Linked DNA regions of Homo sapiens. The protein of the gene in region 2 purifies or fractionates together with the protein of the main gene of each other region. This does not show direct contact. Each region holds a gene or a part of one and is shown on either strand. Other genes may lie near its edges. The genes, in order: ALDH1L1, APOOL, BAZ1B, CARD19, YME1L1, DDAH1 and STARD7.

Region 1 (3,500 bases), on a different chromosome or scaffold from region 2:
CTACAAATGGTGTTGATCCTACAGTCAATCTAAGACCAAAAAACTCTCCACCCCCGCATCAGCAGGAAGTAGCTAGAAAGAACATGTCCCCTCTTGTCCTTTTATAACCATAGGGTCTGGAATGATAGAGCAGGAGTACTGTCATCTCAGACAAACACCGCCACTTTAAATTCCAGCTCCCTTTCTAGCCTCATGCATTTCAAGGAAATCACTTCTCTTCTAACTACAAGCAGCCAGAAAGAGCAGACAGTAAAACACGGATAAGACAGCTGGGACACAAAGGGAGGTGGGGGGAAAGTATCTTGGGTAACTGCCAAACTTCACCCTCATACGATGGGCCCCAGTAAAACAGTGGGCCTTAATAATAAGGAACAAGCACATTCCCTTTCCTTCAGGGGCACTAAGACAGGAAAGCTAAAAGCAGACTCTTGGCTGGGCGCGGTGGCTCATGCCTGTAATCCCAGCACTTTGGGAGGCCGAGGCGGGCGGATCACGAGGTAAGGAGATCAAGACCATCCTGGCTAACACGGTGAAACCCCGTCTCTACTAAAACTACAAAAAATTAGCCAGGCGTGGTGGCGCATGCCTGTAGTCCCATCTACTCAGGAGGCTGAGGCAGGAAAATCGCTTGAACCTGGGAAGCAGAGGTTGCAGTGAGCCGAGATGGCGCCACTGCACTCCGGCCTAGCGACAGAGCGAGACTCTGTCTCAATAAATAAGTAAAAACAGACTCAGGGACTATACCTGCAGCTGCAGGAAAAATGTATGAAAACAGGCACACAACTCTCCCTCCCAGATAAGCACAACAAAGAGACACAGAAGCAGTCCAAGCCTCTGATAAACTCTCCCATCCTGAATCCTTAAAAACTCAGTCTGTAAGAGAGTGTGCCTCTGACCTAACTTGGCCAGAAGGCTCCTTTCAGGTTGATTTTCTCTAAAATAAATGTCTTAACTGGCAAGCCAGCTTTTGTATTTCTTTCCTCTTTCTTTAATTCTTACAGTTCTCACAGTAAGGATTGGAGAAAAATCCCCTTCTGGTTTTGGCAGGAGGCAAGGAAAGCAGTCATTTTTTTCTCAACATATCTACCCTCATAGAAACTATTATACCAGAGCCTAAGTGAATGGACACCCAGGGCCTAACTAACCTAAGTGATGAGGAAAAACCCAAATCCAGCCCCTCTAGCCTTTCTCATCACCTAAAAGGGGTAGGACTGAGAAACACTTGTGAAGGTCACAGCCCAGGGGTGCAGGCTCACTGAAACACTAAGACCTAATTGTAGGACTGTAAAACACTTCCCCCCACCAAAACACCTTGCTACTACATCCACAGGGCTCCAGTATAGTAACAAGGGGATTACGGATAAGAGAACTGCAAGCCAGAGCCTATTTAAGGAGTTTCTACAAAAACCCAAAGACAACAGGGTAGACAAAAACAAGAAGATGAAGAGAGAAAATTATATCCTCTGATACCCACAGCTATAGCAAATAGTAAACACATTCTAACTCCTAGACAGGTAAATATCAAACCTCACACTAAAAGCCTATCTACCTCAGTACCTTTTACCCAATACATTATATCTGATTTTCTGCAAAACAATTACAAGATATATAAAAGACAAAAACACAGTTTGCAAAGATGAAACAAGCACCTAAACCACAATCAGATATGGAAGCAATGTTGGAATTTTCAGATGGAAAATTTAAAACAATGATAATTAAAATGCTAAGAGCTCTAATGGAAAAATGTGGAGAACATATAAGAACAAATTGGTCATGTAAGCAGAGAGATGGAAATTAAGAAAAAAATCAAAAAAAGTCTAGAAATAAAAACCCTGTGATAAATGCAAAGAATGTCTTTAATAGGTTTATCAATAGACTGGATACAGTTGAGGAAATAATCAATGAGATGGATGAAATATCAACAAACACTTCCCAAACTGAAATGCAAAGGGAAATATAGAATAAAAAAGACAAAACAGAATATCCAAGAATGGTGGGACAATTGCCATAGGTGTAAATCCTTGTAATAGGGATATCAGATGGAATAAAAAGAAAGAAAGGAATAGTAAAAATGTTTGAAGTGATAATGACTGATAATTTTCCAAAATTAAAGACAGATACCAAACCAAGATCCAAGCAGCTCAGAGGAAACCAAATAGGATAAAGATCACCCCCCACCCCCCAAAAAATCTATACTTAGGCATATCATATTCAAACTGCAAAAAATAAAAGACACAGAGATAATCTTCAGTGAAGCCAGGGAGAGGCAGGGCAGGACACCTTACCTATAGAGGGAGAGAGATGAGGATTACATCAAACGTCTCTTCATAAACCATGCAATCAGGAATAGAATAGAAAGAATTATTTAAAGAACTGAAAACATTCCATCAACTTAGAACTAACTAGATTCCATCTGTATGCAGTAAAATTGTCCTTCAAAAGTGGAGGAGAAAGACTTCTCAAACAAAAATTGAAGGAATTTGTCACCAGTAAACTGCCTTACAAGATATGTTAAAAGAAGTAATTCAGAAAAAAAGGAAAATTAAACAAGTCAGAAACTCAACATACAAAAGAGTATTAGAAATAAATGTGAAATAATTTTTTTTCTTATTCTTAATCTGAGAGATAACAATTTGTTCAAAATAATAATTGCAACAATGTATTCAGTGATTGTAGCTTATGGATAAGTGAAATGAATGATAGCAGTAATAATAAGGCATGGGAGGGAGGAATCAAGAATACTCTGCAATAAGGCCCTTACACTACCCATAAAGTTGTATAGTGTTATTCAAAAGCAGACTTAAATTAGATTTAAGTGTATATTGCAAACTGTAGGTCAACCACTAAAAAAGCAACAACAAAAAAGTAAAACTGATATGCTAAGAGAGAAAAGAAAATGGAATCATATAAAATGCTCAGTTAAGATCAGAAAAGGCAGAAAAAAGTGTGGAAGAAAAAAGAAACAAAGGGCAAATAGAAAACAGTAATAAATATGGTAAATATTAATCCAACTATATCAAAAAATCACTTCAAATATCAATGGTGTAAATATACCAATTAAAACATGTGACTATCTAGAGTGAATAAAGAATCGTGACCTAACTATATGTTGTCTACAACAAACCCATTTCAACATAAAAACCAGATAGGTTACAAATAAAGGGATGGAGAAAGATATACCGTGCTACCACTAATCAAAAGAAATATGGAGTAGTTCTATTAACTTCAGATAAAGCAGACTTCAGAGAAAGGAAAATTATTAGGAATAAAGAGAAGCACTACATAATGGTAAAGGAGTCAATTATCCCAGCAGACATAATACTCCTTAATATGTATGTGCCTAACAACAGTGCTAAAATGTGTAAAGCAAAAACTGACAGAATTTTAAGGAGAAATAGATGAATCCACTATTATTACAGTTGGAGACATCAACACCTCTCTGTCAGTCCCCACTAACGTTTTTTTTGGGGGGGCGGAGTTTCACTCTTGTTGCCCAGGCT
Region 2 (2,939 bases):
CACGACTCATTGTAACCTCAACCTCCTACACTCAAGCAATCCTCCCACCTCAGCCTCCCAAGTAGCTGGGGCTACAGGCATGTGCCACAGCACCCAGCTAATTCTTTATTTTTTGGAGAAACAGGGTCTGTGTTGCCCAGGCTGGTCTCAAACTCCTGGGCTCAAGTGATCCTCCTGCCTTGGCCTCCCAAAGTGCTGGGATTACAGGTGTGAGCCATCGTGCCATCACATGTGTGAGCCATCGTGTGAGTATAGGCCACACAGCTATACTTTTATCTTTAAAAAATGCTTTCACATTTTAGGTGGTTTTCAGTAAAAACAGCTAAGAAATATACCGTTATAAGACAATAGTGGCAGAGACTCACTTCTTCACTGATCTTTAAAATAAACCCAAACTCTTCTATGACCTTTGGTACGTCATTCCAATTAGGAAAAAGGGATATGAAAGCATTCACGAGTTGTGTTTCCAGAAGCTATTAATAATATACAAAAAACAGATACAGAGTTTTAGATATTATTTATTTTAAACTAAAGCAAATAACAAGTTAAGTGAAATTTGCAGTTTTCACTTTGCATTGTCTATTTAAAAGGCCTAGGTATTGGAGCTGAAATGCTGAAGAGGCTAAGTCAGGTATGTATTACAATTAGTATTGATATTCTATACATTAACCTTTTCTTAATAAATATTCACAGGGCATAAATTAAATCATTAATCTCACCATTTGAACATAACCCCAACATATACTTCAAATTTCTACCCAAATTAAACTGGATTTTCAAATCAGATGATCATATACAGTATATGAATTATAGTCAATTAAAATTGATTTATATATAATCCACAACCACACTATACACCCTTTTTGCTATCAAGGGAAAGTAAGAAGGAGGGAGATTAGAAAGCATTTTTATTCAAAAACACAGGCTCACAGTATGAATATTACAAGACTATAAAAGCAAGATCTTCTTGTATTTTGGAAACATATGAGAACATGTGTTCTTTTAGGTACACCTTTTCTGTATGATAAAGGCTTTGCAAATCAGTTTTGAGATTTTAAAGAGGGCTTTAAAGCTCAGAACAGTGAGACTTTTTTCTTTTTACAGCTATAGAAAAGTTCAAAAGGTAACTACTATATTTGGAAGTATTATTCACACATAGTGTCTTGCATAGAGTAGACCTTCAATAAAATATATGTGTTAACGAAGATTATACTTTCAAATGAAAGTAATATTTGCTTGTTTGTTTTTAAACAGATAGCCATCACAACTCAATGTAACTGCATGCACTTTCTTGTCGTCATTTGGAACCAGGCTTCTATCAACTACTATACTAGTCGAGGGGCTTTAGACCTTTCCTCTGAGGAGGGCTGGCATCTCTTCAGGTTTAACAGAGAAGAACTCCTGGACATGGCATGGGAAGAATGAAAGAGGCTTTGTAACAACTCATCCCAACACAGCCTCCAACATTTGACTGTCACCTGAGTCTAACAGCAGTTTGACTTTGTTGTACAATACAGCAAGTGATCATCACATTCTTGTTTGAGCAGATCTTTTATTTTGAAACAGATTTTGTAGCTCTAGTCAACTTTCCATTATCCAAACCAATATTCTAACGGCTAGTAGCAGTAGTGATAATCCAAAAGAGCAGATAATTTAAAAGTCACTTATACTTAGCTTTGCGCTATTTTTTACCTATCATATTTCATCAAAATTAAGGTGCTTTTCACAATTTGACATATCTGATGTCGGGATAAATGTAATGATCAACTGGCAGCATTTTTTGTTTGTTTGTTTTTAGAGGCAGGATCTTGCTATGTTGCTCAGGCTGGTCTCAAACTTTTGGCCTCAAGCAATCCTCCCACTTCAGCCTCCCAGACATAAGCAACTCTGCTCAGCATTTTTTTTTAAATTAAAGGTATATGATATGCCTTAGATTTGATGAAATATGGGTGTTTGAATATATTCAGATCTGAGGTTTAAAAAAATTCATTTCAAATACTGGAGATAAATTCTGAAGAGCTTACTTATGAAAAACTAGCAAGTAAACTGCTTCCCTACCTTGAGCAGCTTAAGTACCACTGCCTCCTTGACATCATCCCAGTACTACATTCTATCTCTGAACATCCATAGCTCTTTGGTTGTACTTATCTTAGGGAAGATACCACATACAACACTATATTTCTATGTTTCTCTCTTTCCTAGTAGAGTATAAGTCCTTTGAAATAATTCTAACTTTTGTGTCCTGTGCTGCAACCAGCATAGCAGAACGTGTGAGTTCCTACTACCTACCAGGCACTTCATGGGCATAGAAACTACACAAAAATTATTCAGTGATATCCACAAGGAACCTTGTCTGTGAGAAAATATTAATTACATAAATTGTGTAAAGTACCATATCTGTAAATACCAGCTATCACTTGCTAGTTTTTCATAAGTAAGCTCCTCAGAATTTATCTCCAGGATTTGAAATGAATTTTTTAAAACCTTGGATCAGATCTCAAACACACTCATATTTCATCAAATCTAAGACATATTATATACCTTTATTTTTTATTATTTATTTTTTGAGACTGAGTTTTGTTCTTGTGCCCAGGCTGAAGTGCAATGGCACGATCTCGGCTCACTGCAGCCTCCACCTCCCGGATTCAAGTGATTCTCCTGCCTCAGCCTCCCAAGTAGCTGGAATTACAGGCATGAGCCACCACGCCTAGCTAATTTTGCACTTTTTGCGTGTTTTTAGTAGAGACAGGGTTTCACTATGTTGGTCAGGCTGGTCTCAAACTCCTGACCTCAGGTGATTCACCCACCTTGGCCTCCCAAAGTGCTGGGATTATAGGTGTGAGCCACCATACCCGGCCATACCAAATACCTTCATTTTTTTAAAAAAGGCTGAGCACAGTCACTCATGTCTGGTTGGCTGAGGTGGGAGGATCGCTTGA
Region 3 (3,500 bases), on a different chromosome or scaffold from region 2:
CATTATCCTCAAATGCAGCTGAATCTTTATTGTCATCTGTGTCTGAGCCCTCGCTTTCCTCCTGAACATCAGATCTGCGCAAGCAGAGCCGCACCAGCTCTGAAACAGAATGCAGAGTCAAGGGGATTTCCGACAGCTTCATTCCCAATTCACCATAGTCTTCTGCTATCTCATCTTGTAGGAGGGTCTGTAAGAGGATGACCAACACCCTGTTAAGGTATAAAAAGCCACCCTTATCTGCACTCAAGGCTTCCATAAGGGACACAGCAGTAATAGGATACTGAGCATCTGGTAAAAGTAGCCCAGAATAACAGCTCAAGAATTCCACCACCATGGCCACATCCCCAAACAGCGTGTTGGGCAGCCCTTCAGGGGTATCCACCAATCTGAATGCTGGAAGGTTTTTGCCAGTTAACTCTTGGTCCTCATACCGCTTCTGTTTTTCTAATCTCTCAAGCATTTCTTTCTCTCTTCGTTCTTTGGCTTTTTCCTTCAACTTCTTTTTCAGCTCCTCCCGTTTCTTTTTCAAATATTCTTTCCGTTGTTCTTCAGACATAGAAGCCCACCTCTTTTTGTGCTCTAGAAGTTCATAGCGTTTTTGAACAAGACTTCGCAATTCTTCTGGGAGACGAGCTCTATCTTCACTAGAGAGAAGACGAGCTGTTTTGGAGATAACACAGGACAGGGCGCTCCTCTTGTCCTCCCTGTCTTTGTTTTCTTTGTAGTATGCAATGAGGTGTAGGGCTGCAGGAGGCAGATGTTTATGAGGTTTACTAGAGGTCCTAGGTGTACCCCCAGAATTCCGTGGGGCTCGTGTCATCTTCTGCGTGCCTTTGGCCATATCCAACAAAGTCATCTGCTTCATTTTGGTTTTAGGAGTCTTCAGTCCTTTTTTGGGAGATTTGGAATTCCCTGTGGATTTCTGTCCATTCAGGATGCCTTTGCTTCTGCCCTTTGCCTTCAAAGGCTTGTCACTGTGCTTCCCTGGTTTCTTGGCAGGTGGGCCTTTTTTAGGAATGTGAAAGTTAGTGTGCAGCTTATTGGGCGACATCATCTTCATCATTTCTTCTAGATGTTCTTCAGGAGATTTGGAATTCTTTGAGTTCTTCACTTTGAGTGGCGAGCCACTCAATGACTTCTTCAAGTGTACGTGACACCATAACTTAGGATTTAGTGGTGAACTAAGAGAAGAGTTGTCTGTCTTGGATTTCTTTGAGGGCTTCCTGTCTGGGGATCCAGTATTCTTCCTCTTAGTAGAAGGGTTGAGAGTCATATACTAGAATTTAAGAATAGGAGCAAAATTAATTTTAAAATCTAAAACTAACTTAAGCAACATTTAAGCATCTTAAAGGCCCTCTTCCCCAGCTATTCAGGTAAAGCTACATATTCATATCTCTTCATAGATACTTTGTCCCTGAAAAAACAAAGACATGAATGTTAGCTAATGTTTTTGTCATGTCAACACAAAATTCCCTTGACATCCAGACTTAATACTAGACATTTTTGCTATGTAACTAGTTCTGTTTATGTATATTAATGATTCTTAAATATTTAAACAAAATCTGTGAACCCCTCCAGCAGAAATAGTAGACAAAAACTATGCATACAATTTCAGAGAATCCATCCATGGACCCCAGATTAAGGATATCTGATCTACAAAATGGCAATATCTGAAAAGTTTAAAAAGCACTGTTCTTGAAACAAGACTGAATTTTCATCCTTTCACTGTTGGTTCCTATTCAGGGCATTTTATGCTTTTAAGTAGAAATGATACTGTTTAAAGTACTTTTGTCTTAACTCTGAGGTACATTTTCTTATAGAAGCATCAGTGAGTGTAAGAACAACATGAACACTGCTCATAGATAAAGACACCTCCTGACCTGGGCCTCAAACTCCCCTTTGTCCTCACCCAACACTTTTAAGAACTCATTCTGGCCAGGCGCAGTGGCTCACCCCTGCAATCCCAGAACTTTGGGAGGCCGAGGCAGGCAGATCACTTGAGGTCAGGAGTTGGAGACCAGCCTGGCCAACATGGTGAAACCCCGTCTCTACTAAAAATGCAAAAATTAGCCAGGCATGGTGGCACATGCCTGTCACCCCAGCTACTCGGGAGGCTGAGGCTCGAAATTGCTTGAACCCGGGAGGAGGAGGGTGCAGTGAGCCAGGATCACACCACTGCACTCCAGCCTGGAGGACAGAGCAAGACCCCCGTCTCAAAAAAAAAAAAAAAAAAAGAACTCATTCCCACAACTAATTTCACACCATCCTCTCTTTGAACATACCCTCTTATGTTCCAAATCCACTCCCTCCAGTCCCACAACTCTACAATCCTTCAATCTCACCAGAACCTTAAATCCATTAATTCTATTACATTTTCACCATCCTAACCCCCATGTCTTGCTTTACCCAGATTAAATTTTAGTCAATCATGATAATTAATCTCACATAAACCTATAGTTCCCTTGTCTCTCTTATTCTATTGTATCTACTTGGAAAAACCATAACCCTGATTAACTCACTCTATTTACTCCTGCCCTGCATATGTTCAGCTGAAACACGGCTAAAATAAAAGATAAATAAAAGTGGGTGGTCTCAGCTGGGTGTGGAGGCTCACACCTGTAATCCCAGCACTTTCGGAGGCCAAGGCGGGCTGATCACAAGGTCAGGAGATCGAGACCATCCTGGCTAACACGGTGAAACCCAGTCTCTACTAAAAATCAAAAAAATTAGCCAGGCATGGTGGCGGGTGCCTGTAGTCCCAGCTACTTGGGAGACTGAGGCGTGAACCCGCAAGGTGGAGCTTGCAGTGAGCCGAGATCACGCCACTGCACTCCAGCTTGGGCGATGGAGCAAGACTCTGCCTCAAAAAAAAAAAAAAAAAGTGAGTGGTCTCACTTTAAATTCATTGCCAGGCACCTCAAACGGGTCCTCCATATCACCTAGCAAACACAGTATGTTCCTTTAGTCCACTCATGTTCCCACTCTCCTGATACACATCTCATCTCCTCATACCTCCCATGCCTCATCTCCATCATATACAATCAGTTAACAGGTTACAGTCCGGTCCATTTGTCATGATACCACTGCTTCTCTTTTTAAATGTGTATTGAAAAAAAGAAAAACCAAACTCTTTGAGTGGAATGCTTTAAAAAAGATAATTACAAAGAAAAATGCCTGGTAGCTAAAATGCAAACTAATTGAAATAACCAAGTCAAGTAATCCAAAATACAGCCCATTTCAGAAGAAAACTGTTGCTTTATGTGATTAGGGAAAAGACTAGATCAACTCTAGAATACTTGATTTTTATTACCAAAATCAGCTAAGTACATCAATGGCACTCACAGATATGAACATCCAGTTTTTCAACAGAAGGGACTAACCAGAAAAGAGCAACATGTAAAGAAGAAGTCTAAAGACAAGTAGGTTAGGCTAGTTTGAGATGAGACTACAGGCAAGAAAACAGCTAAGGATTACTGAATAACGAAATTATGAGCCCCTTA
Region 4 (3,500 bases), on a different chromosome or scaffold from region 2:
AGGCGGATCAGGAGTTCCAGGTCAGGAGTTTGACACCAGCCTGGCCAACACGGTGAAACCCCATCTCTACTAAAAGTACAAAAAATTGACTGGGCATGATGGTGCATGTTTAATCCCAGCTTCTTGGGAGGCTGAGGCCAGAGGATTGCTTGAAACTGGGAGGCAGAGGTTGCACTGAGCCGAGATCATGCCACTGCACTCCAGCCTGGGCGACAGAGACTCCATCTCAAAGAAAAAAAAAAAAAGACAGAAGTATTGGCTCTTTTGATGTGTATGACAGAGAAATGTGTGGTTCTCAAGGTCAGTGGACAGGCCACTGGGCCTTGACCTCCAGGACCTGGAGTCTGTGGCCTGGTGCTGCCACCTGGTGGCAGCATATCATTCTACATGGCCACAGGGAACTGGAGTTAAACCATGGCAGTGTGAAAATGGCAGGCAGATGGGTGGCAGGAGCTGTGGTGTCTGTGAGGAAGGAATATGTGCTTTTTCTTGTATAAACGTCTTAAACTTTCTAAACTTTTTAAAAGTGAACATGCATTAGACTTCAATTGCAATAATAAGAGATTTGGATTTGAGCTCCTAACTTTTAAAATTACTGTACCACCTTCAAAACGGAAGAAGCACCTGAGCCAGTAGCAGGGCCCGTGTTGACTCCTGTTCTGTTGTGGGCCAACCTCATTGTTCCAGGAGATGCCCCAACCCTCAGGATAGCCCTGCACGTGGCACCTGTCAAGGAACAGGTGGCTCAGTGGGGGCGCCAGAGCCACAGATGTGGGTAGGGTCGGCAGGGTGTGGCTAACTCTCTCATCCAATGTCCCCTCAGGGCCACCTGGCACTGGGGTGATGGAGCAGAACAGACCTCCCAAGACAGAGCCCAGGAATTGCATCTTAAATGCCATCTCCAGCAGAGCCACCCTGGTGTGCCCAGCTCTGCAGCTCTGAGAGGCCAGGGCCATGTGACAGAGTGACAGCCACTGGCCCTGGGCACTTTCCCAAATAATAGGATGAACTCAAGATGTGGCCTGACACTCCTGAAATGAGTGGCCCTGGGCAAGTGGCTGCCTCTTGAGCCTTCGGACCACCTCTGTGAGATGGGGTGATGAGCGTGGCTGCCCACAGGGCTGCAGGGCCATCTGGCGACAAGGGCTCTCGGGCAGGCGTTTACCCGGCTCAGCTCAGTCAGTCCTCACCACACCTGCCAGGCAGGGGCTCTCGGTGTCCACTCCACACATGGGGGAGGCTGGGGTTCTGAGGGGACCAGCCCGCTCAGCACTGCTGAGAGGGGCAGACTGGGGCGCGGCTGTGGGGTGAGTCAGCATCTGCCTTCCTAGAAGCTCAGCTGCCTACCTGTGACATGCTGGGCTTTCCAGCCTCGTACAGTAATATAGAAATTAGAGAAAAGGAAGCAATTGTTTGCCCGCTTTGAACCTTCGGAAGATGCAGAGTGCAAAGCCCTGTGGCACTGGGGTGGGCCGGGCCCATTATCTGTTCCCCATCCCACTTCGGCTCTCCCTCTGCCTCCTCCCTCCTCACCCCTCCCTCCTGCCCTCTTTCTCGCCTCCCTCCGTATCTTATACTGTTGTGTGCTTCATGTATTGTCACATGTTATCTCCTGTAACCTCCCAGCAACTCGGGAAGGGGACAGCAGACCCAATGACATATGAAGAAACCGAGGCACAGAGAGCTGATGTTCCGAGCCTGGTTGGGCTCACCCCAAAGGGCCAGTTTGTAGCTCAGGCAGCCTTAGTAGCCAGGTCCAGATGTGTCACCTCTGAATCCTGACATACCTAGTGTGTCATCCCATGAGAGAATGACCCAGGGCTGGTCACCAGCTTCTCCCAGCCCAGAAAGGAAGGGAAACTGAGCAGTGTCTCGGGTACCCCCCTCACCTCCTCAGCACCTTTTCCGCCTCCTTGTTGGTAAGGATCTGTGGGTAGTAACGGTTCAGCTGGAGGATGATCCTGTCCACCTGCTGCTCACTCAAGCGCCCATGGCCTGTCAGGAAAGGCGTGTCCTGCACCAGGCGGTCACAATAGGTCTGATCTAAAACAGATAGCACAGGGTCATGAGCCAGCACAGCCCAAGGGGACCAGAGACGACAGCCTCGTACTGACACTGACCACAGGAAGGCATCACCCCCAAGGTGGGTTCCCACCAGGAGGGTGAACCTGCAGAATCACAGCCATCCCAGCCTGTGTGGTGCGCATTGCCCAGCTGAGAGCTGCCCCTGGCCTGCCAACCTGCCTCTCCAGAAGATGGAAGTGAGGGGTTGCGGTGGAAACCCACTTTCACAGAGCTTATCACAGAAAACAAACTCAGAGGGGCGAAGAATCTACTTTTCATGGGCCACCTGCAGGGCCATCAGGAAATAGCTCAGTTCTGGGGAAGGTACAGGTGGCACAGGTGGCTCAGAATGCCCAGGGCCAGGCACGGTGGCTCAGACCAGTTGTGATGGCTCACACCCGTAATACCAACATTTTGGGAGGCTGAGGTGGGTGGATCACTTGAGCTCAGGAGTTCGAGATCAAGAATGCCCAGATGTGCGCTCTGCAGATCTTCACAGTGGCACAGATACAGGGACACAGGGCTCAGGGTGGCCTGTGCTGGGATCACCATGGGACACAGTGTGTCTGCAAGGCCTTAAGAAGCTTCTACCAACAATAAACCAGTGAGTTCTCCCAGAGGGCTAGAAATGCTTTTCATTTGCCTTTTTTTTTTCCAGAATCACCATTAAAATATCATTTTACCACCTTTTCCATTAAGAATGTTTCTTAGAATGGCAGATGTTTAAGGCTGAGCGGTGGAGTGATGACGGAAGGGCATGGAGAGGATGGGGCACAGGACCCCCACAGGGACTGAACAAGTGCATCACCCTACATACTTGTGGCAGCTTGTCCTGTTTCCCCATGTACACAAAGAAAATATTTATAGAATATAACACAAAAGAAACTGAGAAGGGACTCTAAATGTGTTACTATAAAATATCAACAAAACACAAAAGAAGGCAGTAATAGAATAAATGAGGGTCAAAAAAGCTACAAGACATACAGGAAACAAATAGCAAAATGGCAGTAGTAATACATTCCTTATCAGCAATTACTTCAAATGCAAATAGGTTAAACTTTGTTTTTTTTTTTTTGTTTTTTTTTGAGATAGAGTCTTGCTCTGTCACCCAAGCTGGAGTGCAGTGGCCCAATCTCGGCTCACTGCAACCTCTGCCTCCTGGGTTCAAGCAATTCTTCCTGGGATTACAGGCATGTGCCACAACACCCAGCTGGTTTTTGTATTTTTTTTTTTTTTTTAGTAGAGACAGGGTTTCACCATGTTGGCCAGGCTGGTGTCAAACTCCTGACCTCAGGTGATCTGCCTACCTCAGCCTCCCAAAGTGCTGGGAATACAGGTGTAAGCCACCACACCCAGCCAAATTTTCCTATCAAAAGGCATAGATTGGCAGAGTGGATTTTTAAAATATGATACAACTAAGTGCTGTCTACAAAAGA
Region 5 (3,500 bases), on a different chromosome or scaffold from region 2:
AATCTGGGAAACTAACCACTACTAGGAATGAAAGCCTAATTCTAGTACTGTAAACATTAATATGTTCTTTCTTTAAGGGTTAGATTAGGCATTAAAAGGAATCATGTATTTAAAGGAATAAGAAATAAGTTAGACAAATAAAAAAAGCTTTTACCAGATAAAAATGGGTTTTTTAGAAGTCCATAAATGCCGAATAGCAGCAGAACGAAGAGAATCAGACGGGTTCGCCTTAGGGAATCTAGGAGAGAAAGAAAAAGCTTTACATGAAATCACATTTATGAAATATGACAGCTCAATGAAATGCAAATATTAGGTTATTGTTAATAATCATATTTCATCACATCCAATTTTGGAATCTGGCATTCTTTCTCACAACTGCTATGATTTCCTGTAAGTACCCTATTATCAAAAACTTAAGGCCAAGCATGGTGGCTCATGCCTGTAATCCTAGCATTTTAAGAGGTCAAGGCAGGAGGATCACTTGATCCCTGGAGTTCAAGACCAGCCTGGACAACAGGGCAAGATTCCATCTCCACAAAAATTAGCTGGGCGTGGTGGCACATGCCTGTGATCCTAGCTACTCAGGAGGCTGAGGTGAGAGGATCACTTGAGCCCAGAAAGTTAAGGCTACAATGAGCCATGATTGCACCACTGCACTCTGGCTTAGGCAATGAAGCAAGACCGTGTCTCAAAAACAAACACAAACAAAAAATAAAGAAACAAAAACCTTTATGAAGCCATTCACACTTCCTGTTCTCCAATTTGTTTTCTCTCTTGAGAAAGGGAAACCATCAGCAGTATCGCCATTTCTACATAGATTAAGTTACAAATATAGTGGAATTTAATCAATAGATGGTCTTAGAAAAGTTACTTAAAACTTAAATGTAGGACTATGACTTCCTTTCAGTTACTCTTCTCAAACACGGATGGTGTCAATTCAACTTACCATTGGTTTTTTGTGTGAGTGCTTGAGCTTTCAGAAAACCTTCCGCAAAACCAGTTTTAAATGCATCTTGGTGAGCTTCAGGTATATTTTTGGTTTTCATGAGTTTGTCCAAACTCTCAACATCTGATCCTCTGTCCCGCAAAAGAAACCCCTGAATACACAAACAACACATCAGTACTGGTTAACAACACAGTGATACTTCCCAACAATATTGTGACCACTCAAAAAAATTCACTAAAATTCTGTATAATTTTTACTGTCAATGTGAAGAAACAGATTAAGACTCAGCAATGAATTAATCAATAACTAGGAAACTAACACTAGATCCCATTCCTGCATCAATCAATTAATAATATAAAGAAAGTGGCATTATTCTCTGCACGAACACTACACTGAAAACAGGTCACATATTATTTTAGGGTTTGATTGGCTTAATGTTCATATCCCTCTATCTTTGCTAGAGGAAAAAATCTCATTAATTTACTAAATGTCTACTAAGCACCGTTCATATACTTGGCCTTATATAAGTTCTGAAGATGTAAAGATAAATAAACCACTGATCTTAAAGTTTTCAGTCTACTGGAAAAAGATATATAAATAACTAAGTTTCTTAAATCATTTTGATATTATGTTAGAAGTATTATGTATGGTGGTAAATCAATGCTACCTCAGGAATATGGAAAAGGCCTTACAGAGAATAGGACATCTAAAACACAGGGAATAAACACTATGAACAATCTGACGGAGGCATGAATCAATAGCCTTCAGTGCTCAAGAACTGTAAGCAATCTTATATAAGACTTCAATGCCAAGAGAGGAGCAGGGAAACAGAGGGGCATATTGAATGGTGAGAAGAGAAACATGGCAGGTAGAGATCAAATGATGAAATTCCCAGTGTATCAGGTGGAGGTAAGCAATAAAGCAGAGTAATATAACTAGATCATTATTTTAGAAAGATTGATGGGTGGCAGTCTGGAGGCTGGACTGAACGCAGCAAGACTAGAGGCAAGGAGACTAAACAAGTATTCATTACAGTAATTTAGGCAACAAATAGTTATAGCCTATCTATGGCAGTGGAACAGATGTAAGAAATATTTAGGAGGTTGGATCAACAGGACTTTAGTGGTTAATGGATGTGGGAGGTAAGGCAACATGGACAAACGTAGGTTGATAGCCAGGTTTTTAGCTTGGGTGGATGCTGCTCATTAATACAGAGAACACCTCGACAGGTGTAGGTTTGTGGGAAAAAAATCTAGTAAGTGGAGAGGCAAGTCTGGTGCCCAGAAGAGTTAGAGGTATAATGATTACACAGGTTACTAATCCCTTATTATTAGTGGAAAGAAGGAAGAATATCTATCAGCCAACAAAAGAAATCAGATATTGAAGCTCCTCACTCTAACAACTTGAAAATATTTGCTTTTTGGATCATAAAAAGGTCTAATTACCTTCACGAATGATGGCGCTATATTCTGTGTTTCAGCTAATCTCTCGGAGGTAGACTGGAGACGTCGTGTCCTTGATTTCAAAGTTTTAAAACCCCGAGACTGTATGAAAACTAAATAAAACAATACCATTCACTGTCACTATAAATTGTTACAGGAAAAGAAAAATGCCTAAGATTCTAAAGTCTGACACCCTACCTGTATATCCTAGTCTATCTAATTTGCCTGACACTTCAATACGTTTTCCTTTGTTTCCTTCTTTTTTGTAGAGACGGGGTCTCCTTTTATTGCCCAGGCTGGCCTTGAACTCCTGGGCTCAAGCAGTCCTCTTGCCTCAGCCTCCCAAAGAGCTGGGATTAGGTCTGAGAACTTAAATCTATCATGCCCAGCTTATAGTTTTTTCTATCCTCCTTTTTTCAAAAGGAACTTTATTTATTTATTTATTTATTTATTTATTTATTTATTTATTTATTTGAGATGGAGTTTCACTCTTGTTGCCCAGGCTGGAGTGCAAGGCATTGCTGCTCACTGCAACCTCCGCCTCCTGGGTTCAAGCAACTATCCTGCCTCAGCCTCCTAACCTCAGGTGATCCACCTGCCTTGGCCTCCCACAGTGCTGGGATTATAGGCGTGAGCCACCGCGCCTGGCCTATTTTTTATGTTGATAGGGGATAAAGGTAAATAGAGAAGTCAGAGGGTTATACAATATAATTTAAAAAACTGAGTATCAACTCTGATAAACTGTGATTTCAAAAAAAAAAAAAAACCCAACCAAGTAATTAAAATAGATTGAATCTACACAACTGATTTTTACATGTTTTTGGTAATTACATAATGTTTTTGAAAAAAGGGTAAGTGTATCAAATTAGTGTCTTCTAATTTCTCAAGCCCCAATCCCACTTCCCAGAAGTATAACCTGTTAACAATTCTGACTACCCTTGTATGCATGCACACAGGTGCTCTTTCTATAAAAACTACTCTAGAAATAGTACCTAATTTTTTGCAATTTTCATTTTTCGTGCATATTTTTCAGAACAGAACAGTGCATTCAGTTTAATGGCTGTTTACACTTTTCCAATTTATCACAGTGCAATTCATTCAACCATTTCCCT
Region 6 (3,500 bases), on a different chromosome or scaffold from region 2:
GGAATGTATGACATTCCATGCTTTTGCTTTGTAGTCACCTCCGGACATGCATGAGTCACACTGAGAGGTGGGGAATTTGCCCAGACCGCTAGATCCAGTGAATAAAGTCAGGCCTAAGAGATGTAGTCTTGCCATGTTTCTTTCTCTTTCAATTCATCTGGTACTAAGAGACATGGGTGATTTATTTATCTGTGGGTAAAGAGTACAATGAAGCTTCTGCAGATCACAAATTAAAATGGAAAGCCAACTGGCAGTTATCTGGTGATTATGAGTGGTGGGAGCACTTAGCCTGAATGTGTGGGCCAAAATATGCCACACACAGTTTTCCCAATTGCTTAGAAAAGTAAGTCAATGTGAGTAATAGATTTTCTAGATTTTGTTTTGTTTGTGTCTAGGTTGACCAGGTAGCAGTGGTTGTGTATACATGTTCTAAGGATCTCTCTGAGGTCCTCAAACCACTGGGGTCCTACTTAGTAAACCTCTGGCTCAGAGAACTGCCTCCCCAGTTGTCTGGAAGAAATTCTGAACTTCTTGGGTAAACTAGGTCCAATTCATGTGACAGGATGACCGTCCAGTTCTGACTGCAAACATGAGCAGACTGGCCATCTTGGTCCACCCTCAACAGCACATAATAAACAGAGATTTAGACATAGTGGAATCCCATTCCCTGCACCTGGAAAAAAGCACGTTTGTGAGACTGACCAAAAGCTATTGTCTAGAAGTTTCACAAATCCTAACTGCCACCTTGCATATCGAGGCAGCCCCACTCTACTATGAAGAAGTCAATCTGCCCATTGGGTTTATGGACTATTTTACTAAATTGGGGTCACAACCTGACAGAGGCTTATGTGTTCGGTTTGATATACACAAAAGTTTTTCTTTTCTTTCTTTCTGTGAATGCCCTTAGGTGCCACATACTCTGCAGGTAATTCCAGATCCAACCCCCTGTTGTCTTACTTTGTCATCCAGAGTCATTTGAGTTAGGACCACAGAGTATAGTGCCCTTCTGTATGGCTTTGAAAAACAGACAAACCTTGGCCTTGTTGATTTTAGCCATGTTTTTTCACATTAAAAATAATGAGTTGTATTTCTGTTTCTGGACATAGACCATACCTTGTTTCTCTGAGGGAATTCAATTGTTTACCCATGTGATTGACCACACAGTTCATCACAGTGCCCTCCTGAGGTTCTCTGTAGCGTTTAAAAAGGTGAAAGGAATGAAGAAATGAACCAGTTAGTGCAAACATATTTTGGTCACCTGCTATATGTCAAGTGACTTGCAAGAAACAAAGAGGGAAGTGAACCGACTTTTATTACACATTTAATATCTGCTAGAAGCTTGTGCTAAGCATTTTATGTACATTATCTGTTTTGGGGTTTTTTTTAAATAATCTTCAGAGTTACCCTGTGGAGGATAGGTATAGCATTCCCATCCCATTTTACTGCTGAGGGAATTGAGGCTCACAGGGCATATGTGACTTTCCCAAAGTCACACAATTAGTGTGTGGCTGAGCAAGGCTTCAGACCCAGACCTTTCTGACTCTGAAGCCCATGCTCTGTCCACCTCATTATGCCTGGACCTGCATTCAAGGAGGTAGCAGTCTGGTTGAAGAGAGCAAAACTGCACAAAAACTCATAGTAAAATTTGTCCTTATTCCAAAAACTTTGGGAACTTTGTAGCAATTATCTCTCTAGGGGATCTAGGTAGAAGGGATGCTAAGCCTGCAACACTACTAGATTACATGTTAACGTAGGCCTTAGAAAGAAGGAAGCTGAAGAAGTAATTGTGAGAATATGGTAGGTCTAGTCTTTTATGGTTTTTAAGACTAAGGATTAGACTCCAAGACAGATTATCTGTGGCTCAGGCTGGAGTGCAGTGGCACTATCTCGGCTGGTGGCAACCTCTATGATCTTCCCACCTCAGCCTCCTGAGGAGGTGACTACAGGTGTGTGCCACCACACCCAGCTAATTTTTTTGTAGAGACAGGGTTTCGCCATGTTGCCCAGGCTGGTCTCAAACTCCCGGGCTCAGGCGGTCTTCATTTGTTCCCTTGCACACAATAATAAATGGAAGCTGCTATTATTGTGTTTTGGAAGCAGCCAAAAAGAAAATCTGCATAAGAAGAACTAAATTGCAATTCGTAACAAAAGAGCTACTTGGGTCTGTTTTTTTATTCTCTCAAGCGTCTTCATATTATTTCTGGGCATATCCATTTTATAAAGAGGGCTAAATTGAATATGTTGTTAATTTTCTTAGAAAAGTTAATCTTTAGGAGTGTCTTTAACTTCTTAATTGCCCACATGTTGGATTAGATCTAAGGTTTCTAATCAGGGCTGTAAAGAAAGACCCACTCCATAGGTGAGCCCCTCTATGGGCCTATCCCTTCAAGAACAATTTAAATTCAAAAGTGCAAGAGAGATGTCCAGTTAAGTCCTTTACCTATACCAGACGGTAGCAGGTCATAACAGGATTACATACAAGAAAAGAATTAATGGTACTGCCAGAGAATGAATAATAAGTATCAAGTGAATGTGAAAAAGTAGGTGTTATGTAGTTTGTAGGAGGTAGTTTCCTGCTGCAGAAGTTGAGAAAGAGCAAAGTGAGATGATTAAGAAACGTTTTGAGTTGCACAGATCTGGGTTTGAATCTACCTATGTGACCTAAAGCAAGTTATTTGACCTCTCTCAGTGCAGTTTCTTCATCTGTAAAATAGAAGTTTGAGATTAGATAATAAATGTAAAATGTTTGGCATGGTGCCCTGCTAGTTCTTATTGTAATATAATTATCTATTTTTCTGTCAGTTTCCTCCACTAAACTGTAATCTTGGAAAACTGGGTCTGTGACCTGTTCATCTGTATGTCTCAGCCTTTCATACAGTGCATAAGCTCATCCCCATTCCTGATGTTTCATTCCATGTGAAGGGTATTCCATTATGGGATTGCTCTTGGCCTCTCTCCACCCTTGACATATTCCACACTAGAAGTGAATGATTTACCTGACTGGTGAGTCAGGAAGGGCTTACTATGTGCCACTCTTAGGAATGAATTTTCTACAGGAAGCATGCTGTCTCTCTTCTGCTTTTCATACCATAAATCTTACTATCCAGTGCCCCCATGACTGAGTGGGCATGTCTGCCTAGTAATATGAAGCACATTTCCATACAAACACTGAAAAGTAAAAGTAAATGGGACCATAAAGGTAGATTAGAACCAGATTGTGGAAAAGATCATGTTATACCTTCCTAGCATGATATTTCAGCAGATTCCTTAAAACTGTATGGATATTGATAAAGAGTAGAAAGAGTCTACATGACTAAACCCCAAATAATATTTGTTTTTGTGGGTTTTTAATTTGGATATTCTTGTTGTTAGGGGGAGGAGTGTTGTTTTTTGATAGTTTTGATTATGTTGAGGAGGTAAGGATGAGGTATCAATATTTTAAATTTTGTGCAGAGTTCATTTTTGTGTTGTTTTTAAAGTTATTTTATGCTAGGATACTA
Region 7 (3,500 bases), on a different chromosome or scaffold from region 2:
CTGGTTTTAGTTCCACTTCACCTTATAATGGCTTTGTTTCTCCCTATTGCTTGTGTTCGATTTAGGGCTATATGGACAGTGTTCTTTAGTGTAGTTTTCTTATTCTCATCAAGTTGTTTTATTTATACCACCTCAAGGACTTGAGTTGGTCCTTGTAAAAAAAAACAAAAAAAAAAGTACACTGGATAGAGAGGAAAGCAGGCAGGGCACTAGGGTTAGAAGACATGATTCAAGCAAAGACAAAGATAGGAATGAGCCAGGTATGCACTGAGAGACTCACATGCTTAGAGAGGAAAGTAGAGGTTAGGGAGAAGTGATAAATTGCATTGACTGTGTACAGAGGGTACTCGAAAACCATGTAGCTGAGTTTGGATTTGCCAAATGGGAATTAGATCTTTGAGCCAAGGTAGGGGGTTTTTATCATGGAAAATTTGAAATAGATACAAAAGATACAGAAGTAGAAGAGTATAATGAACCCCCTGTATCCATCCCCAGCTCCAGTTATCAACTTATGGCCAAAATTGTTTTATCTATACCCTTTCCCATTTCCTTTCTCACTCCCCTGATTATTTTGAAGCAAATTCTAGCTTTACTGTAGGAGAACCCAGTTCTTCTATTATATATTTCAGTATTTATCTCAAATAAGGATTTTGGGTTTTTTTGGAAACAGGGTCTCCCACTGTTACCCAGGCTAGTGTGCAGTGGTACAATCACAACTCACTGCAGCCTTGACTTCCTGGGCTCAGGTGATCCTCCTGCCTCAGCCTCCTGAGGAGCTGGGATTATAGGCGTGTGCCAACATGTCAGGCTAATTTTTTGTATTTTTTGTAGAGATGGGGTCTCACCATGCTGCGCAGGCTGGTCTCAAACTCCTGGACTCAAGCAATCCTCCCACCTCAGCCTCCCAAAATGCTGGGATTAGAGGCGTGAGCCACTGTGCCCAGCCCAAGTAAGAAATTTGTAAAACAGCTCTGGGCCAGGCAGCATGGAGAGACCCGGTCTCTACAAAAAATAAAAATTAGCCAGGCATGGTGATATGTGCCTGTAGTCCCAGCTGCTTGGGAAGCTGAGGTTGGGAGAATCACTTGAGTCCAGGAGGTCAAGGCTGCATTAAGCCGTGTTTGTGCCACTGCATGCCAGCCTGGGCAACAGTTTGAGACCCTTCTCAAAAAAAAAATAAAAAATAAAAAAGCCAGGCGCAGTGGCTCACGCCTGTAATCCCAGCACTTTGGGAGGCCGAGGCATGTAGATAACTTGAGGTCAGGATTTTGAGACCAGCCTGGCCAACATGGTGAAACCCTGTCTCTACTAAAAGTACAAAAATTATCCAGGCATTGTGGCACGTGTCTGTAATCCCAGCCACTTGGGAGGCTGAGGCAGGAGAGAATGGCTTGAACCTGGGAGGCAGAGGTTGCAGTGAGCCAAGATCGTGCCGCTGCACCCCAGCGTGGGCGACACAGTGAGACTCGTCTCAAAAAAAAAAAAAAAAAAAGACACAGACTTAAATGTACTTAGTTTTTAAATATATTATCCTTATTGATGCTCAAATTGATTCCAGTTTTGGTCATTGGGAGTCTTCTTGTTGGCTCAAGCCCCTTTGACATGACCCCAGAAGCTGTCTTGCTTTCTGGTGTTACAAGATGTTGTAGGTTCATCTTGTATATTTTTAGTTTTACACCTGGAAATTAACATTTCTTTAGGGAGTCCTGGTTCCTTTTAGTGGAAAATGGCATTTAAATACCACAATTTGGCTGCTAAGAATATTCATAGCTATTGGGTCGTTTATTGTTTGTAGGCCTTTTCAGAAGACAGAACCAAGTAATACATTTTACTGGTATGTTTATTTTTAAGATAAAATAAATCCTAAGTATATACTAATACTTTTAATTCAAATTCAGGACTATGGAGTTTTTATTTCTATCTTCTATCTTTTGTCTTTCCCTGTACTGTAGAACTCAATTCCCAGGAACCCTAACACAACTACTAATTTGTTGAAATACACAGCCTCAGAATAACAATACAGTAAGATCACCAATAATACGAAGAATAAAATTTTGTGGTCTTTTTGTCTTCAGGATGTGCATACTGTGTACAAAATATTGATTTTTTTTTTTTTTTTTTGGAGACGGAGTCTCGTTCTGTTGTGCAGGCTGGAGTGCAGTGGTGCGATCTTGGCTCACTTGCAACCTCCACCTGCCAGGTTCAAGCAATTCTCCTGCTTCAGCCTCCCAAGTAGCTGGGATTACAGATGTGCACCACCACGCCTAGCTAATTTTTGTATTTTTATTAGAGACAGGGCTTCACCATGTTGGCCAGGCTGGTCTCGAACTCCTGACTTCAAGTGATCCGCCCGCCTCGGCCTTTCTGAGTGCTGGGATTACAGGCATGAGCCACCGTGCCCAGCCCCCAGCTAAGATTTATGACAGTGTCAGAGTAAAGATATGCAGCTGGATCATAAGAGAAAAAGGCACAGGAGGAGTCTGGAGGAGTCCATGTGAAGCTTCCTTCCCCAGCAATGAAATGTAGCAATATGTGTGCAATGTTTCTGTTTAGGAAGGCCATTAGAAATTTAACACTCTGGCTGAGCACGGTAGCTCATGCCTGTAATCGCAGCACTTTGGGAGGCTGAGGCAGGAGGATCTCTTTAGCCAAGGAGTTTGAGATCAGCCTGGGCAACACAGGGAAGACCCAGTCTCTGCAAAAAATAAAAAATTAGTTGTGGTGGTAGTGCATGCCTGTAGTCCCTGCTACACAGGAGGTTGAGGTGGGATGACTGCTTGAGCCCAGGAGGTGGAGGCTGTACTGAGTCGAGATTGCATCACTGCACTCCAGACTGTGCAACAGAGTGAGACCTTGTCTCAAAAAAAAGAAAAAAAAAACACCCAAAGTGTTTTTTTTGTTTTTTTGTTTTTGTTTGTTTTGTTTTGTTTTTCTGAGATGAGTTTCGCTCTTGTTGCCCAGGCTGGAGTGCGATGGCGTGATCTTGGCTCACTGCAACCTCCGCCTCCCGGGTTCAAGCAGTTCTCTTGCCTCAGCCTCCCGAGTAGCTGGGATTACTGGTGTGTGCCACCACACCTGGCTAGTTTTTTTTTTTCTTTGTATTTTCAGTAGAGACAGGGTTTTGCCATGTTGGCCAGGGTGGTCTCAAACTCCTGACCTCAGGTGATCCATCTGCCTCAGCCTCCCAAAGTGCTGAGATTACAGACGTGAGCCACCACACCCAGCCCAAAGTGTTTTTTAAAGACGGAGTCTTGGCTGGGTGCAGTGGCACACGCTTGTAATCCCAGCACTTTGGGAGGCCAAGGTGGGTGGATCACTTGAGGTCGGGAGTTCGAGACCAGCCTGACCAAGATGGAGAAGCCCCGTTTCTACTGAAAATACAAAATTAGCTGGGCATGGTGGTGCATGCCTGTAATCTCAGCTACTGGGGAGGCTGAGGCAGGAGAATCACTTGAACTCAGGAGGTGGAGGTTGTGGTGAGCCGAGATTGTGCCATTGCC

What was found.
Region 1: the proteins of APOOL (region 2) and ALDH1L1 purify together in Homo sapiens (co-immunoprecipitation; one large-scale study listed by IntAct). This does not show direct contact.
Region 3: the proteins of APOOL (region 2) and BAZ1B purify together in Homo sapiens (affinity purification with mass spectrometry; one large-scale study listed by BioGRID and IntAct). This does not show direct contact.
Region 4: the proteins of APOOL (region 2) and CARD19 purify together in Homo sapiens (affinity purification with mass spectrometry; one large-scale study listed by BioGRID and IntAct). This does not show direct contact.
Region 5: the proteins of APOOL (region 2) and YME1L1 purify together in Homo sapiens (affinity purification with mass spectrometry; one large-scale study listed by BioGRID and IntAct). This does not show direct contact.
Region 6: the proteins of APOOL (region 2) and DDAH1 purify together in Homo sapiens (affinity purification with mass spectrometry; one large-scale study listed by BioGRID and IntAct). This does not show direct contact.
Region 7: the proteins of APOOL (region 2) and STARD7 purify together in Homo sapiens (affinity purification with mass spectrometry; one large-scale study listed by BioGRID and IntAct). This does not show direct contact.

What each region holds. Positions count from the first base shown.
Region 1 is NC_000003.12:126,170,587-126,174,086, forward strand, and holds part of ALDH1L1 (cytosolic 10-formyltetrahydrofolate dehydrogenase), read right to left. Parts: intron 1-3,500. UniProt on the Homo sapiens protein: Cytosolic 10-formyltetrahydrofolate dehydrogenase that catalyzes the NADP(+)-dependent conversion of 10-formyltetrahydrofolate to tetrahydrofolate and carbon dioxide.
Region 2 is NC_000023.11:85,090,877-85,093,815, reverse strand, and holds the end of APOOL (MICOS complex subunit MIC27 precursor), read right to left. Parts: 3' UTR 1,426-2,939; coding exon of another isoform or gene 1,255-1,425; 3' UTR 632-1,254; coding exon of another isoform or gene 591-631; 3' UTR 501-590; downstream 1-500. Other genes in the region: SATL1 (spermidine/spermine N(1)-acetyltransferase-like protein 1), read left to right, coding at 591-631, 1,255-1,425. UniProt on the Homo sapiens protein: Component of the MICOS complex, a large protein complex of the mitochondrial inner membrane that plays crucial roles in the maintenance of crista junctions, inner membrane architecture, and formation of contact sites to the outer membrane.
Region 3 is NC_000007.14:73,477,294-73,480,793, forward strand, and holds part of BAZ1B (tyrosine-protein kinase BAZ1B), read right to left. Parts: intron 1,277-3,500; coding exon 1-1,276. UniProt on the Homo sapiens protein: Atypical tyrosine-protein kinase that plays a central role in chromatin remodeling and acts as a transcription regulator. Involved in DNA damage response by phosphorylating 'Tyr-142' of histone H2AX (H2AXY142ph).
Region 4 is NC_000009.12:93,106,217-93,109,716, reverse strand, and holds part of CARD19 (caspase recruitment domain-containing protein 19), read right to left. Parts: intron 2,044-3,500; coding exon 1,901-2,043; coding exon of another isoform or gene 1,890-1,900; intron 727-1,889; exon of another isoform or gene 625-726; intron 1-624. UniProt on the Homo sapiens protein: Plays a role in inhibiting the effects of BCL10-induced activation of NF-kappa-B. May inhibit the phosphorylation of BCL10 in a CARD-dependent manner.
Region 5 is NC_000010.11:27,133,885-27,137,384, forward strand, and holds part of YME1L1 (ATP-dependent zinc metalloprotease YME1L1), read right to left. Parts: intron 2,502-3,500; coding exon 2,392-2,501; intron 1,098-2,391; coding exon 947-1,097; intron 239-946; coding exon 155-238; intron 1-154. UniProt on the Homo sapiens protein: ATP-dependent metalloprotease that catalyzes the degradation of folded and unfolded proteins with a suitable degron sequence in the mitochondrial intermembrane region.
Region 6 is NC_000001.11:85,325,660-85,329,159, reverse strand, and holds part of DDAH1 (N(G),N(G)-dimethylarginine dimethylaminohydrolase 1), read left to right. Parts: intron 1-3,500. UniProt on the Homo sapiens protein: Hydrolyzes N(G),N(G)-dimethyl-L-arginine (ADMA) and N(G)-monomethyl-L-arginine (MMA) which act as inhibitors of NOS. Has therefore a role in the regulation of nitric oxide generation.
Region 7 is NC_000002.12:96,188,328-96,191,827, reverse strand, and holds part of STARD7 (stAR-related lipid transfer protein 7, mitochondrial isoform 1 precursor), read left to right. Parts: intron 1-3,500. UniProt on the Homo sapiens protein: May play a protective role in mucosal tissues by preventing exaggerated allergic responses.